Homo sapiens: one gene and its partners. The protein of the gene in region 3 purifies or fractionates together with the protein of the main gene of each other region. This does not show direct contact. Each region holds a gene or a part of one and is shown on either strand. Other genes may lie near its edges.

What was found.
Region 1: the proteins of CNPPD1 (region 3) and OMA1 purify together in Homo sapiens (affinity purification with mass spectrometry; 2 studies listed by BioGRID and IntAct, with this or other methods). This does not show direct contact.
Region 2: the proteins of CNPPD1 (region 3) and PLS1 purify together in Homo sapiens (affinity purification with mass spectrometry; 2 studies listed by BioGRID and IntAct, with this or other methods). This does not show direct contact.

Annotation. Positions count from the first base shown.
Region 1 is NC_000001.11:58,543,727-58,550,873, forward strand, and holds the start of OMA1 (metalloendopeptidase OMA1, mitochondrial precursor), read right to left. Parts: upstream 3,001-7,147; 5' UTR 2,977-3,000; intron 1-2,976. UniProt on the Homo sapiens protein: Metalloprotease that is part of the quality control system in the inner membrane of mitochondria. Activated in response to various mitochondrial stress, leading to the proteolytic cleavage of target proteins, such as OPA1, UQCC3 and DELE1.
Region 2 is NC_000003.12:142,683,374-142,690,566, reverse strand, and holds part of PLS1 (plastin-1), read right to left. Parts: intron 6,562-7,193; coding exon 6,396-6,561; intron 6,315-6,395; coding exon 6,172-6,314; intron 4,284-6,171; coding exon 4,191-4,283; intron 950-4,190; coding exon 754-949; intron 1-753. UniProt on the Homo sapiens protein: Actin-bundling protein. In the inner ear, it is required for stereocilia formation. Mediates liquid packing of actin filaments that is necessary for stereocilia to grow to their proper dimensions.
Region 3 is NC_000002.12:219,171,205-219,173,926, forward strand, and holds the end of CNPPD1 (protein CNPPD1), read right to left. Parts: intron 2,264-2,722; coding exon 2,146-2,263; intron 1,925-2,145; coding exon 1,382-1,924; 3' UTR 693-1,381; downstream 1-692.

The DNA of each region.
Region 1 (7,147 bases), on a different chromosome or scaffold from region 3:
TCTGGCAAAGGGATATACAAATTTAAAAATAATAATAAATGCTACCTAAAAACTTCTGTATAACAGAGGTGGCAAACTCAAACGTCTAAAGAAGCACCATACAACAGACCTTTCTACAATGATAAAAATGTTCATGTCTGCACTGTCCAATAAGGTAGCCCCTACATGTGGCTACTGAGCATTTGAAATGTGACTGGTGCATCTGAGGAATGAAATTTTTAACTCAGTTAAATGGCCATATGTGGCTAGTGTCTACTGTATCGCACAGTACAGGTTTGTAGGGTCCAGGCAAGTGAATATCAGCAAAGTGATACTGATGTGAATGCAGATTCATGACCATCTAAAGGAGGTGCAAACAGTTATGATGGAATTTGAACTTGCTGTGGCCAAATGATTCAAAACTTTTAAGTAAAGCCAGAATTTCAGATTTTAGGTGAAATTTATCAATTTTTAAATGTTGGCAATGAACTTAAAAAATTTTAACGACCTTAACCAAACATTCAGATTTTGTATTTTTGACCTCTGAACTGTATTATTATTCATTCATTCTGAAAATGTTTAATGAGTGCCCACTAAATGCTAGGCACCATAATGGATGCTAGAGATACTGCAGAGAACAAAACAGATTTTAAAAAACCCTCCCCAATTTGCAAAAATAGTAATGAGAAAATATGCTAGTATATACAAAAATAAATCTGAAAAAAGATACACCAAACTATTCACAATTATTTTGAATGGCAGGATGGTGGTTAAGAGGGATTATTAGTATTTTCACCTTATATATTTCTGTGCAGTTCAAATTTCTACGGGATGTATTATTACTTTTTTAAACCTCCACTCAGGCAACTATTTCTGTAATTCCCATTGTTTTTCTTTTCTTTTCGAGACAGGGTCTCACTTTGTCGTTGTCCAGGCTGGAGTGCAGTGGTGCCACCTCGGCTCACTGCAACCTCGCCTCTTGGGTTCAAGCAATTCTCGTGCCTCAGTCTCCTCAGTAGCTGGGATTACAAGCATGCATTACCACATCTGGCTAATTTTTGTATTTTTAGTAGAGACGGGGTTTCGGCAAATTGCCCAGGCTAGTCTCGAACTCCTGGCCTCAAGTGATCTGCTCACCTCGGTCTCCCAAAGTGTTGGGATTATAGGCCTGAGCCACCGCACCTGGCCAGCCCAGCTAATTTTTTAATTTTTTTCTGTAGACACGGTGTGTCACTATGTTGCCCAGGCTGGTTTTTAACTCCTGGGCTCAACTGATCATACTGCACTGCGAAGTGTTGGGATTACAGTCATGAGCCACCACGCCTGGACTTTCGTTGGTTTTCCATGGCTTCCACAAACTCCTTCATATGGCGAACCAGGCCCTCCTACTACTTCTCCAGGCACCTTCCCCAACCCTCCTTCACCCATTCCTAAATTCCAAACTCCCTGATTTACTTACACCCCACAGAAAAAGAAAGCTCTCATCTCTATGTCTATGCACATCTATTCACACTGCTTAGCTCTGCACATGACAAGCAAACTCCTTCTCATTTCTCATGACTTGTGTAAAAATTTTAAAAGAATCCTATTGACACAGAAGGTATAAGCAAAAGCCCCAACACTACGCATATATAATTAAAACCATTATCATTTCTATCACTGACAACCAAGTGTCGTTTTGAATAGAAACAGTGCCTGATATTTTGTAATACCCGGTTTATCCTGAAGAAAGGGTAAAGAATGAGGGAAGAAATCTATTCATGCATTTTCAAGGAGCCAATCACTAGACTACAGAGCACATAAGAAAAAAAAAAATCAGGGCTGACATATTCTCTTCAAAGAGCTGTGGCAGGTCAACAAACATAGCTGGCAGACTTCTAGGATAACAAAATTAATGATGTGAGAAAATTAAACAATTTGGATTGTTAGCCTCTACGAACATTTCAGATCCTTAATTCTTTAAGTACCATCTCCGAATGAGCAAGTGCAGCACTCACTGGCACTCACAGCTGAAGCCTGGAAGACAGTTTTAACAACTCTTGCTGAAAATGACTATTTCTTCTCTAGTTTCTATGGAAACAGCTGTCAGATTGGCAAAAATAGGACATGTACTTTAAAATAATCATTCAAGCAAAGTACACACATGATGGAAGGCTTTAAAAAAGAATTGGACGGCAGCAGACTTGGTTCTTAAGCTTCCAAATGTCAGACTACACCCCTTCACCCCGGCTGAGAATGACGGAGATGAACCTAAATCCTTTTAGCGAGGGTTGCACGACCTTGATCAACGCCTGAATGCCAAATAAGGGATTTTCATCTCCCTGGACTACAATTTCTTGTTGAGGATTGCACGGCACAATAAAACTGTTGCTCCACACACAGGCGACATTTAAACAGTATACAGTGAGTTCTGTAGACGAGTTTACGAGGAAATTGTTAAAACTCCCCGGAACTGCTTAGACGGGGAATGTTCTGGTTTGCCCTGCCGAGTTTAGGCTGGAAAACGTGTTCAGTTTCTCCTGAAGAGGGAAGGGGTGAAAGAGACGAATGCCCGACGCGCCGGGAGGCGGTCCCCTCTGGCAGAGGTGCCGGGTGAGGAGCCCGAAGCCCCGCGGGTGAGAAACCCTGCTCTGAAAGCGGAGCCGCGGATAAGGGCGGGCTGAGGGGGAGGGCAGGCGGCCCACGAAAGTACTGCCACGGGGCAGACACACGGGGTCACCGGCGTGCCCCGGGCAAGGCTAGGGGAGAACCGGGCTCCCCCAGGACAGATCCCCTCCGTCTCCCGCCCCGGCGCCCCCCGCCCCTCCCCTCCACGCAGCCTTATCGCCCACCCACGCCTCCTCCCGTACCCCCATCCCCAAGGATCCCCACTCCTTGCCCGGGCGCCCCCGCAGGCGCTCTGCGCTCCGCCCCCTCCCCACTGCCGCACTCTGCCTCCTCCCCTGGGCACGATCCTACTCGGAAAAGCTGGGGAAAAGCGTCACCGTGAGGACTGACTCAAGCAGAAGCGAAAGCGGTGACACCGCAGACCCGACCTATGCGCAGGCGCGCACCCGCACTTCCTGCCCGCCATACCGGCCGGGGCGCCCTTCGCTCCGCCCACACCCGGCAGTCAATACAGCCGCCCAGAGTCGTTCTCCCAGCTGCCCCGGGCCCCGCGGAGACTGTGGCGCTCTAGCGCCTCCGTGTGGCTTAAGGCGGGACATGGCCCTGGGCTGGGCTGCTTGCCTAGGAACAACTTTCTCCCGTCTTTGGTGAGTTGGGTCCTCTAAAGAATGATCCACGCAAGGCTGTGTCCGTTGTAGTCTCTACGGCAGTACCGGCCAAAAGGGAAGAGACTCGAAGACTGCCAAAAGACGAAGGCTTCCTGGTTCTGAATCTGCATTCATAGAAATAGTCTTTGGAGTATGGGAACAGTGCTTTCATATGATTTTTGGAGGGACGCATTTTAAGAAAGATGAAGTATAATCTTAAGTGTCTGGAGGTTAAAGTAGCTGGCTCCAAAATTATGTGTATAGTATGTTTCATTCATTTCACCAAAACATATTTCTTGAGCATCAACTACATTTTAAGTGCCAAGGATGTAGCAGTGAACAAGACAGACCTGAATTTCGTGAACTTTATATCACAGTGAGGAAAGACAGGCGATTAAAAAAAAGTGTACAAATAAACACAAATAAATAAAAGTGTACAAATAAGCCAGTACAAATAAACACTGGATTGTGATGGATGAGTAGTGAGGTCTCATATTAGTTTATTATGTTTACACTCTGTGCACAATGAAAACATCTCAAAGGACATAAACACTATGTCAAAGGACATAAACACTATGAACAATTTTAGGTATCTCTTTTGGAAAATGTGTAAGTTACTGTTTCGTTTATCTTATGTGTATTTTATGATTTGCCTTTTACTTTGAAAGGGATATCCTGGAAAACCCCTGACAACTGGACCCCTAAAAACTGAAGTAGGAGGTCCTTCAGTCTTCGTAGGGTTTATCTCCCAAACTCTGGAGTGCACATGTCTTACCAAAGTTTCCAGCATGCTAGCCACCTCTTGCTCATCTTGCCTGGTTAGCATAATGTCATTGGTGAAATAGATGGGTGTGATGTTCTCTGGAATTTCCAGTTGATCCAGCTCCTTTTGGACTGCGCAGAGCCATTATGTCATTATCCTGGGTCCACCTGATTTCCAAAGGGGCCAGACTGGCAAGTTAAGTAGAGATATGGCAGGGATGACCAACCACTCTTGTATATTTCAGGTCTTTAATTATGACATTAATCTCCACCATCATCTCACTATCCCCTCAGATGAAATATCGGTTTTGATTTATTATCTTCACTTGGAAAGAAGGACAGCTTCAGAGGCTTCCCATTGGCTTTCCCCACCATGATAACTCAAGACCAAGGACCCTGAGCTTCTTACCAATGTGGAGATTGCTCCAGCTGCCCAATATGTACTCCCAATTATGCACTCAGGAACTAAGAAAATGACTACTGGATGGGTCAGTGTATTCCTGGACCCACTGTAAGCTGGACATTATCCAGGACTCTGCTTATTACCTGATCCCCATAAGCCCCCACACTTAGAGAGGAGCCATGTGTGTTACATACTTTGGGTAACACCTGTGAAATGTCTGGGTATTCCTCTTTCCTCAACATAAAATCAGTCAAGAAAATGGCCGTGGGACACAGACCAAAGAGTAATCATTAATTACAGTAAATATTTGTTTCAGTATTGCAGGATTCTTCTTTATAGGGACCCAACAACCTCTTAAGTCAACAGATTCTGTGGTCTCAGTGTGAAGATAGGCTCAGGTCTGAGACTTGAGCAATGAGCAGTGCCTTTTATTAAGCAACTACTCCCTGCATAGGATAAATAGCTTCTTGTCTTCCTCCAGTTGTAGATGTTAGGCAACACTCTTGTTGGCTGCCCGTCTGTTTTTCCCCTAGGGAGACCTTATGCTATTAAAGCCCTCCACAACCTCCTGTGGATCAAGCCCCCTTGGCTGCTCCTCTGCCCTTGGCAGATGTTACAGTAATTACATCTTCTGGTGTCCTCATGGTTAAAGCCACCACCTGGCTTCTACTACTTCAGGATCCTGTTATCCCAATGGATATTATCAAGCCCAGCCCTGTGATTGCCTCTCCTACCGTCAGCCCTTCCCTCCAGAGGAGAGCCTTCTCTGAACTTCTTAGTGATGCTAGTGCCCCTCACGCCAGTGCATTCCCCATGGCCATAGAATATGATGCATCCTCTGGGCCTCCCATGGAACATTCCCCTCTGTCTGCCTTCGGGCTCTACACACAAAAAAAATTCTTTCAGGCAAGTCCACTTCCCTCAGCTCCTCTGTCCTTCTACCATTTGCAAGGGCAATTCGGGCATTCCTGCTTTACTCTGCATGCACTATGGCTTTCTCTCAGCTTCTAATAGTCACCTAGCAGTGAGTTTACCCATCTTCTACAGTCCCAAGTCCCAAGAAAGTGCCCCCAAGACAATGAATTTTTATTTAGCCAGGCTTGTTCTGGAATAGGAATTAAAAGAAATTAAAGAATGTGTAAACAGAAACTCAGTTCTATGTAAGAAAACCCACCTCCCCCCGAGAAAGAGAAAGAGCTGGAGTCCTTTAAATATTAACTGCCTGTTTTTCTGTGGCTAGTGAGCCTTATCTCTCCCTTTCCCAGGCATTGTAAAGACCCTGTTTCTTTAGCTGTGCGCTGCAAGGTCACTAGACAGATAAACTCAAGCCATTAAGACACGTTTTTCCTTGAAAAGTAAGAAATGATGTAATGCATGCCTCAATTAATTAAATAACTGTCTTTGTTTCTTGCTTCTGTAACATGCTTCTCCCTGCACAGATCTCCCCCAACCCCATAAAATGCTTAAAAGGTAACTTGACTCTTTGTTCGGGGCTCAGTCCTTTGGATGTTAATCCGACTGGGCCGGTGCACCTAAATAATAAATCCTCCTCAACCTCTTGGTATCTCTGATTCCTTATCAATCCCGCCACAGTTCCTGCCCACTTTGATCAAGCACCTTCAGAAATCCCATTCCAGGGGTCCTCTCCTGGCTCCTGCTGGTACACGCTAGGTAGTTCCTTTAGCTCCTACATTATGCAGTCTTCCTCCCCACACCTTTACAGGCCCAACACACAGGCAGCTGGGTGATGCTGGAATTTAACCTGAGTTATCACCCTGGCAGATATCTAAGAGGAGATGGGGCAGGTCCTGAGTGGGCACCTATTTATTCCTTACGCTAGAGGCTTCAACACTGCCTTCCCACTTAAGGGAAGTGTTAGCTTTGACTAGGGAAGGGTCAGCCACCTCTGCAAGCTCTGAGGATCTGCAGTCAGTATCCTCAGGGATTCTATCAGGATGTCCCATTTCATGCTTCAAGATTCCAGATTTTCCCAACCAGGGCCCAGACCTGCCTTGGCTAAGCGTTTAAACATCTCTGGGGCTCTACAACTCTTTTCATGAAAATCTCTTTTGCTCCTCTGCTGTCCACACTCCTCCACTGCAGGTGATAAGAGCCTGTCTGTTACCTACCAAGGAGACCTCTGACTCCCACTCAGCCTTAACTGTTTACAAATGACCCTCACTTTCTCATTATCCCATGCAGGGCATCAACACAATGTAGCAATAACCAGCCCACTGCACTGTTCTTTCAGACACTGCTCCCTCCATCTTTCAAGTGCATTAACTATCTCACCTAAATGGCATTGCCCTCCACTGGGCCAGTTTCCCAGGTCGCCATCACTGAAATCCACACGGGGGCCACTATCTTGTGCCAGACACTATCCAAGACCCCACATTCCACTCAAGATGGAGTTCTTGTAGCCAGTTGGGCAATTAATGAGCCACTCTCAGAGCCGATCTTACCATCTTCTTCTCAGATCACCCCACTTCTAGTCCACCTGTATCAACAGGCCCTCTAAAAAGCAGATGCCAGGGTGGAATCAGATGTGCAAGACATATTTACTGCGTGGAAAATCCTGGGAAGGATAATGGAGCAGGAGCAGGAATAGACAGGAAGGGCCCTCAGATCATGACACTGGTTAAAGGAGAGAGGGAAAGAAGAAAGACTGGATTAGAAGCACCTCAGGTAGTAGCACAGTTCTAAGAAGGTTTTGAAAATGAGGAGTCCTTAGGCCAAAATTGCCTGCTTA
Region 2 (7,193 bases), on a different chromosome or scaffold from region 3:
CAATATCCCATCATTATAGAAGGCAAATTAGGTAGAAATTTTACAAAATCAAAGCTTTGTTCTGCTATTCTAATTAAGTTTTATTTGTGTTTCATTCTATGGGCATATTAAGAGAGAAATAACACAGCATGAACAATGCAAAAAGTAAAATATCAACCCAGATGGAAAGAATAAATGGTACTAATAAAAAGAACATTCAGAATGAATATATTTATAGAGTATAGAAAAGTACTAAATACAGTACCTACATTAGGAGGGGTCAAATCTGCATTTCATGAAGCAAAACAGGAAAGTATTATATATTATGAGACAGATAACGATAGACCACACAAAAGACAAATAACGAACACTGTAATTTTTTTCATGTACACTAAAAACCTTAAAAAGAGAACAATACTAGAGTCAAACTGGACCTTTCAAAGGAGAAAAACACCTACAAATAATTATTTTATTCTAATAGATAATTCATTGTCCATGTTGGTGGTAGAGCTGTTATGTGATCATTTATGAGAATATTTTAAATGTATGATAGTTTTCACTAACCTCTTATGGAGAAATAAAAGATTTACCCCAGCATTCTCTTTTAACCAAAACCAGCAACCACCTTCCATAATTTTAATTTTTCAATAGATACACATACCTACACACACTAAATTGCATTTCCCACCACAATCCCCTATCTCTGACAGTGAAGTAAGACAATACCATAAGAAGATAAATATAGCAAGTCAATTAAAGGCAGAAAGAACGCACCTTCCAGTAAATTCATATCGATGTCATTATTATTCGGCTTGTGCAGGCACGGGTATGTGTTAAACAAATTAGCTACAAAAGCTAAATTAAGTTTAGGATTGCCTGAAACCACATCTGCAGGAGTAACAAACTGTTTGCAGCCCAGTTTATCTGCTTCTTGAAGCATGAGTCCAGCACGCTTCAGGTCATTTGTCTCCTAAACAATAAAACAAAAATGGTTACAATTGAAGTTTTAATTGGCATAATTTTTATTGGTATACATGTTTATAAGCAATTACTTTTCCACAAATATATCAAATAATAACTCAAAATAAGATCAAAATGTGTAGTAATTCCAAGTCAACTTACCCATTCCTTTATTTATTTATTTATTTATTTATTTATGTATTTAGAGACAGAGTCTTGCTCTGTTCCCCAGGCTGGAGTGCAGTGGCGTGATCTTGGCTCACTGCAACCTCTGCCTCTTAGGTTCAAGTGATTCTCCTCCCTCAGCCCCTGAGTAGCTGGGATTACAGACACATGCCACTATGCCCAGCTAATTTTTGTATTTTTAGTAAAGACAGGGTTTTGCCATGTTGGCCAGGCTGGTTTCGAACTCCTGATCCGCCCACCTCGGCCTCCCAAAGTGCTGGGATTATAGCCGTGAGCCACTAAGCCCAGCCCCCGTGCCTTTTAAGTTAAAAGGAAAAAAGTCTCTGAATTTCCTTGCTGGGATAACTGAGTTATATTTTACCCTTTTTGCTAAAATACTCAGCAAAATCCTCAAATATTGTATCAGTAAGCTCCTACTGGTTGCACTATAGATAACTTATTCAAGACCAGCTAGTAGAGTGCCCTCTGGATAACAGGCATAGTTATCATACCCACTGTACACTGAGTGACATTTCCAGAAGGCTCTTCTTGATGAAAAACAAGTTGAAATACATATTTTAAAAATTAAAATCATAGGGAAAAGCACCTTTCACAATTGCAAAACCCTGGAAACAAATGAAACAACCCAAATACCTATAAACAGGAGAGTAGATGAATGAATTTGTATATTCACACAATGACATCCAATATGGGTAACTCTTAGAGATACAAGGCCAAAAAGAAGTACTAGAAATTTAAGTATAACATGATAAACTTTAAAGGAAGTTAAAAAGTAAAATGAAGAATTTAATTTTGTAAGGGATACATTTGGATGAAGGGAAACTACATAAAAAGAAAAGCAGAACAACAATGAACACAAGATTCAAGACTGTGGTTACCACACTGGGCGAAAACCGAGGTGGGATAGGGAAGAACTGTACAGAAAATGTCACGTCAAAGTTTTAGTTTTCCTGTTAGATTGAGAGTTCATGAGGCTTGTTACAATTTCAAAACAAACAACCACACACAAAAATAAATTTAAAAATGGGTATGCACAGACCCATATGAGTATATCATGACCAAAGATAACCTACCTAATTCTGTGCACCAGAGTTGCAAAATAATTAATCATATAAATGAAATCAGAGAAAGCAACAGATTATTAAATTAACAAAGAAAAGTTACCATTGTAGACATCAAAAAATGACAATATGTGGCTGGACGTGGTGGCTCATGCCTGTAATCCCAGCACTTTGGGAGGCAGAGGCAGGCGGATCACTTGAGGTCAGGAGTTTGATACCAGCCTAGCCAACATGGTGAAACCCCGTCTCTACTAAAAACACAAAAATTAACCAGGTGTGGTGGTGTGCACCTGTAATCCCAGCTACTCAGGAAGTGGAGGTAGGAGAATCACTTGAGCCCAGGAGGCGGAGGTTGCCATGAGCCAAGATTGTGTCACTGCACTCCAGCCTGGGCGACAGAGCAAGACTCCATCTAAAAAAAAAAAAAAACAAACAAATAAAGACAACATGTGGACCTTATTTTAGATCCTAATTCAAATAAACTATGAAAAAAATGGCATTTATGAGGCAAGTGGAAATGTCAACATTGACTAGATATTTTGATGATGTTACAGATTGTTGTAATTTTTTTAAGGTATGATAAGGTATTGTGGTTTTATTTTAAAAGTGTCTTTGTCTTTTAGAAATATATATTGAAATATTTATCCATGAAGTAATGTCTAGGATTTGCTTCAAAATAATATAGGAGAGGAGAGAAATAGGGAATAAACGAGATAAGATTGACCATGAATTGGCAGATGTTGAAACTGAGGGATGAGTACCTGATAGTTTAGTATACTAAGTCTGTTCTCTTGAATATATTCAAAATTTTCCATAAGTTTAAGTTCCTAATTTTTTTACTTAAAATGATTTGCACATTTTACAGAGCGTTGCAATACTGTGTTTCTGAAATATGTCATTATAATAATGTGAGATATAATTAATTAGTAATGACTCAAGTTGCCTTTAAAACCAAATGTTACGGACGCCGCACTTTAAGTACGTGATATATTTTCATACAGTCTATTATCTGACCAAATTTTAATGTTTAGAATTCAAGTTTGTCCAACCCACGGCCGGTGGGTCACATGCGGCCCAGGACAGCTTTGAATGTGGCCCAACACAAATTTGTAAACTTTCTTAAAACACTAGATTTTTTTGCACCTTTTTTTTTTTTTTAGCTCATCAGCTATTGTTAGTGTTAGTGTATTTTATGTGTGGCCCAAGACAATTCTTCTTCTAATGTGGCCCAGGGAAGCCAAAAGACTGGACATCCTGATTTAGATAGAACCATCCCTGGTATTTATAACTTATGCTAAAAGAATGAGATTCCTAGGAAGTATGCTTGGTAGGTCAGAATCTGTATCAGTCCTTCCTACACCATGAATATCTATTTTTATTTTGTAGATTTCTAAATATAAGCTGGTAAAACTGATAATTGATTGCTTAAAAATCTAACAACAGGTTGTTGCTTCCTTTCCTGGCATATGCTGACAGTCAAAAGAGCACCCTGGTGAGTTCCAATTGCCTTGCACCAGGGAAACATGAATGTAGGATTGATTCCACAAATACTCCAGGTCACAATTACGCAGTTCCCTTTCTTCCGTCATGATAGCCAGTTGGCTTGACATGGAGGCTTGGAGCCTTGGGCATGGAAAAAACTTCCATAGAGCAAAGCACCAAACTTTAATGGAGGGCTGAGGGCTCTACTGGGGAATGCTGCTTGTAGAGAACTGTACTCTAAATTTGACTGTACCTGCTACTGAAATTCAAATTCATAGTCAAAAAGTAGAACAGTAGTTACCAGGGCCTGGGGGAAGGGGAAAATGGGGAGTTATTGTTTAATGAGTACAGAATTTCCCTACAGGATGATGAAAAGTTTGTAGAGATGGATAATGGTGATAGCTGCACAACAATGCAAATGTACTGAATGCCACTGAACTGAACACTGAAAATGATAAAAATGGTAAATTTTCTACGTCTGTTTTACCACAATATATTTTAAAAGTTAAAAATTGCACTCACATTAATTCCTGAAAGGTCAATGGCAATGGCAGGTCCATCTTCCCCACCTTTAGGGGCAATCTGATTAAGCAGATGAAAATAGGCTCTCGAGTCCTTCAAGGAAAGATATGAAATAGCATTTTTAAAACGAATAAAATCATCATTGAATTTAGGGAAAACAAGTGCTCAAACTGAAGAAATTGCCTCTATCTCAAAGAATGGAATAACTTTAAAAATAAAGAATTACTTGTAGGTTCCTGAATGTACCATGCTGTTTCACACTTCAGAGCTTCAAAGCAATCCTGTTTCACACCTCAGAGTTTATAGCAATGCTGTTTCCTGCACCTGGATACCCTCCCTTACTTTTCCATCTGTTTACACACCCAAGCATCAACATCAGTTAAGATTCAGGTCAAGTATTATCTCCCGTATGCCTTCCCTGGATTCTCTAGGATGAACTAAGAACCCCTCTTCTGTAGTGCACAGCACCCCTTGCCTATCTTAATAAGTAAACAGTGATCACACTATTAAATCATCTAATGTCATTGTCTCCAAAGATGGATATATAGTTCTTCCCCATGCATACATTAACTCTTCCCACCAAAAGGCAGAAGCTATTTCCTGTCCTCTTTAATTTGGACAGGCCTTATGATTCACGTTAACTAAGAGAATGCTGTGAAAGTGATGTTCTGGGGCTTCCACGCCCAAATCTTAAGAGCTTCTGCTTCCTCTCTCTTAAAGTTAACCTCTACATAAGAAGTCCAACTATCTGAGACTATCATGCTGTGAGGAAGCCTGAGCTCACCATGTAGAGAGGCCTTGTGGAGGAGCACTGAGGCACCAGACATGTGACTGAGGCCTTTGTGTACTTTCCAGATGAGCCCAACTGACAGCTGAATGTAATCGAGTTAGTAATCCCAGCCAAAACCATGTGAAGCAGAAGAACCACCCAGCCAAGATGCATCAACCCACAAAATGATGAGAAATAATCATTATTTAAGCAAATTTTGCATAATTTGCTATATAGCAATAGATAACTGAAATATCCCTCTGGTACATGTTTGTCTCTGAGTAGAATTGGCAAGCTTCTCAAGAGCTGAGTCTTTGCATCGCCTGGGCATAATGCCCCTCAGAAAGAGCTGAATAAATGTTTGATTAGCTGAATTTTCAGAGATTTCAGAATAAGAGAAATCTCCCAAATAAACTTTCAAATATAACAGTGTATAGTAGATGAAAGCAGAGAAATAAAATGTCACTTCAAATTGAGAGACTGTCCTGTAGGCCATTATGGAAAAAGATAACCTGACTGAAGGTTATATAGCTAAAGACGGAACATGAATTAGAGCCAGCACTGATTACTCTTGGGGGGCAGGATGGGGGAGGACATAAAGAAACAGAGAGAAGAAAAAAGTCACAGCGACCCGGCTTGGCAATGCCCATCCAGGCAGTAACCAAGGGAAAGTTGTCATTAGACAAAAATGCCTGTTATAGTTTCCTTGACAAGATTCTCCCAGTAGAGAGGGAAGTGTTTTAAGCTACCCTGGTTAAGGCACATACCTTAAGATCCCCTTTATTTACTGATTCTCTGTACCCTCAGATAATCTGATTTCCTGTTAGCTGGTTATTGGCAAAGTGGGAGTAAGAGTGTTAAACCAGTAAACAGATATAATTATTAGTCCAAATGAACAGACTGACATCCTCATTATAATCTAGCAGATCTCAGGCATAAAAAATGAGAAAGTGTGTTTTAATCTGTTGAGGCTAGCACCTCTTTCCTCTCACAGTCAGTTGTAGTTCTTATTAAAAGCCAATATATCTGGTTTTTAGAAAATATATATTTTGTGAATATAATTGGGGGATCTACTTCACACAGTAATGCAAATTTTCATTTTCTATCCCAAGTGTTCTTGTGAATTTAATTCAAATTTAAGTCTGAACCCCTTTTATTTTTACACTGCACATCCTTATTTCATGTCACAAATTTGAACATTTAAATATAAACCTTAATGTCTTGGCTGAAGTTGCTGATGGTATGCCATCCTGCATTGGTCAGATGGTAGTTCACCCATCGCAGCAGTAATTCCTCGGGAGAAAGCTTCATCAGCTCCTCTAGTTCCTCACCTTCATTTAACAATGCAATCAGAGCTGAGGGCAAAACAGCGAAATGTAAATTCTTCCCATAGCAAGTACATGTCAATGAACAGCAAATATTTCTAATGATCTTACCTTCATTCCTGGAAATCTCAATATCAGCAAAAAGGCCAACTTTGATGATCTGCCAGAGAAGTCCCAAGACCAAGTGAGGTTTTCCTTCTTTGAGATCTGATGCACCAATGTTGACCACTGTACAACCAATGGCTGAGGCAGAATTCAGAGCTAGGTTTAAATTTTCCTGAATTGCCAAAAAAAAAAGTACACATGAGGAAGTCCTTTCTAAGGTCTTATCTATAAAAATTATCTATAAGAAACAATGGACTGCCAAATTTCAGATTTATAAACATAATATTTATACAACGAAAATACCACTACTCAAAAAAAAAAACACATGGTTTTAACTGTTACTTTATATGCCAATGACTTTCAAATCCCTATTTCCACCCAGACCTCCTCTGAGTCTCCACTCTAAGCTGTGTATCTATATATGTACTTGGTTATGTCTACCTGGATGTTCTGCCAATACCTCAAACTCAACATGATATTTTTGTAAAGTGCTCATTTGGAAGCACTTCTTTAAAAAATGATGTACAATTAGGTTTTAAGATAATTTTAAAGTAACTCTTAAGATGGATTTTACAGATGAGGAAACTGCAGCACTGACAGTTTCCACAGTGGAAAGGCCGGGGTCTGATCCCAGCGGTCTCCCGAGCCCATCCTCTTTTTTATTTATTTTTTTTGAGACGGAGTCTCACTCTGTCACCCAAGCTGGAGTGCAATGGCACTATCTTGGCTCACTGCAAGCTCCGCCTCCTGGGCTCACGCCATTCTCCTGCCTCAGCCTCCTGAGTAGCTGAGACTACAGGCACC
Region 3 (2,722 bases):
CGGGAGGTCTGAGCATTTCATGATGTCTAGCATCCCGCCCAGGTTGACGAAATGCCAGTAGCACCCCATCCCCTTGAATCCTTTTGACAATGAAAAAATAGCCCATAAATTTCCAAAATGCCCCCTAGGGGGCAGAACCACTTCTTCCGTGAAGTATCCTCAGCAGTCCCAAATACCCTCAGCCAAGCTGCCCAGACTGTTTTCCTTCCTCCAGTGATGACCCAGCCTTGGAGTTCTTCAAGTTCTTGGAATTGTTAAGCACCATGTGACCATCACCATGTGTCAGACCAGTGAGGAGGTCAGGAGAGAGAAGCGTCCTCGTGGCTTGCCCTCAGGAGCTCACAAGGCTCTGCTGGTTACAAGGCCTGGCCCCTCTCCACGAGATGTGCTTTGGGATCCACAAGGAGAGTGCTTACCCAGAACAAGTGACAGACAAGGCCAACTCAGGGACAGGACAGTCACCATGTGTGTCCCATGGCATCCCAAGTTGAGCAGTGCTAGGGCCCAGGGTCCTGGGAGCAGGAACAAAGTTGGAAATGGAAGCCTATGCCTATCAAACGATAGGAAAGTCCTGAGATGAGGCTGAGAAAACAGTTTGTGAGATGACAGGATCAGGAAGCAGGGAGGCTTGGAAGGCAGATACAGGGAGGAAAAATCTTCAAGGGCTGCCGCAGAAGGAAAAGTCCAGGCCATGCAACTGAAACTGTTTATTGAAACCTCAGTTCTACAAAAGCGTGAAAAACCCTGATACAAAGCAGTGGCCAGAGAGGCCTGGGAAGAGAATACCTGGGAGAAGAACCAGAAGAGAGGGAAACCTAGGAGCAGGACACTAAGAGAAGACTGGAAGACAAAAGATCAGGGTTGAAGGTCCCAGCAGTCCTTGGCTCCATTAGACTAAAGCTAAGGAATGGGAGTGAAAAGGGTTCCCTGCCTCACCCAGCAGCTCCCACCTGAACCCATCAGTCCCCGGCTCTTCTGCCTCAGGGACATCACACAGGCCCATGCCAACATTTCCTTTCTCCTCTCACCCCACTTCCCTTATCTCCCACCTATACTCTTCCATCCTAGGGAAATCAAAAGTAAAAGTCTAAAAAATCCCAGGGAGGCAGAGAGGGGCTTCTATGTCCATCTGGGACATGTCCCTGGTCACCAAGCGGAAGCTCTCCCTGGCGGCATCACTGTCCTGGCCAAGCAGCCAGCCACTGCGATCTAGGAGTGAATTACCTTCAGTCCTTCTGCCCCACCACCCCATAAGCTCCCACCCAGGAGGACAGGGGACCTGCCAAGGACCCAGCGAGGCAGACAGGATCTGAATCAAGCTTTGCTCCTCCAGGTTCTCAGAAACTCCCAAACCCTCTTAATGCATTCCTCACAGCCCTACCTAGCCTGGGAAAACGAAAGACTTGAGGCGAGCCAGCTCCATGACACTGAAAAGGGAACATTGCTGAGGCTGAGGAAGTGAAAGGAGCACCGGGCTCCAAGGCCAGGGGGGAGCCAGGCCATAGGTATGGTACCAGGGGCTGGACAGCGCAGTGGGGACTGTACGGTTGGGGTGGAGGCAGGCATGGCAGGTTGGGGAGTCTCTCTGGAGCTTCTGGCAAAGGTGGCAGTTATGAAGAAGAGTGGGAGGGGCAGGGGGGTCTGGGGGAGGCAATGGTGGAGGAGTCAGTGAGGCCAGAAGACTGCCCCAGAGTGACCGCAGCCCCATGCTGCCTTCCAGGCAGCTGGAGACATTAGCGAGAGACGGCAGGCATTGTGGCACAGAAGGTATGCAGGGCTCCAGGAGGCAACGGGAGGTCAGTCCAAGGTCAGGCGGCCCAGGTGTAGGGATGCAGGACAGCCCCAAAGACTGATGTATTACGGCCACCGATGCCACAGCCAGGGCCACACTGCTCACATATGCCACAGCTAACAGGCAAGACAGCTGCAGGAGAGGAGATAAGAAAGAAGGAATCTGTCTTTAACACATTCACCCCTTGTCTCTAGAAATCTGTGTTCCAGTTGGAGGTCTCTATAGCCATTTACACCCCACTCTGCCCATCTATTCCCAACCCCATCTCCTGGGCTTTTCAGCAATCACTTCACACCATCCCACCCTACACACCGGCCTGCTCAAGCTCCCTATCCTTCCGAGCCCCTCCTCACCTTTACCAGCCGCTGGCAGAGGGAGCCCAGGGCCAACTGCCAGGTCGGCTGCTCCAGCAGCACACACAGGTCTGTGTAGGTGTACCAGCCTCGCCACCGTCCCTGCTGCTCAGCCACACTGGGGGAAGTGGAGAAATGACAAGAGTATGCAACTGTCCTGCAGCCAGCCCAGTGGCACCCTCATACCACTCAGGACCCACCAGGAAACACTGGGAAGCCTGTTAAACCCAGATTCCTAGGCTATCTGCTGATCTAGAAACTAAGGGTGAGACCAAGACCTATATTTTATTTATTTTTATTTATTTATTTTGTTAAGACAGGATCTTGCTGTCTCCCAGGCTGGAGTGCAGTAGTGCAATCATAGCTCACTGCAGACTCAACATCCTGGACTCAAATGATCCTCTTGTCTCAGCCTCCTGAGTAGCTGGGATTATGGGTGTACACCACTGCATCTGGCTAGTATTTTTTTCTGGTAGGGTCAGGCATCTTGCTATATTGCCCAGGCTGGTCTCGAACTCCTGGACCCAAGTAATCCTCCAGCCTCACCCTCCCAGAGTGCTAGGATTATAGACATAAC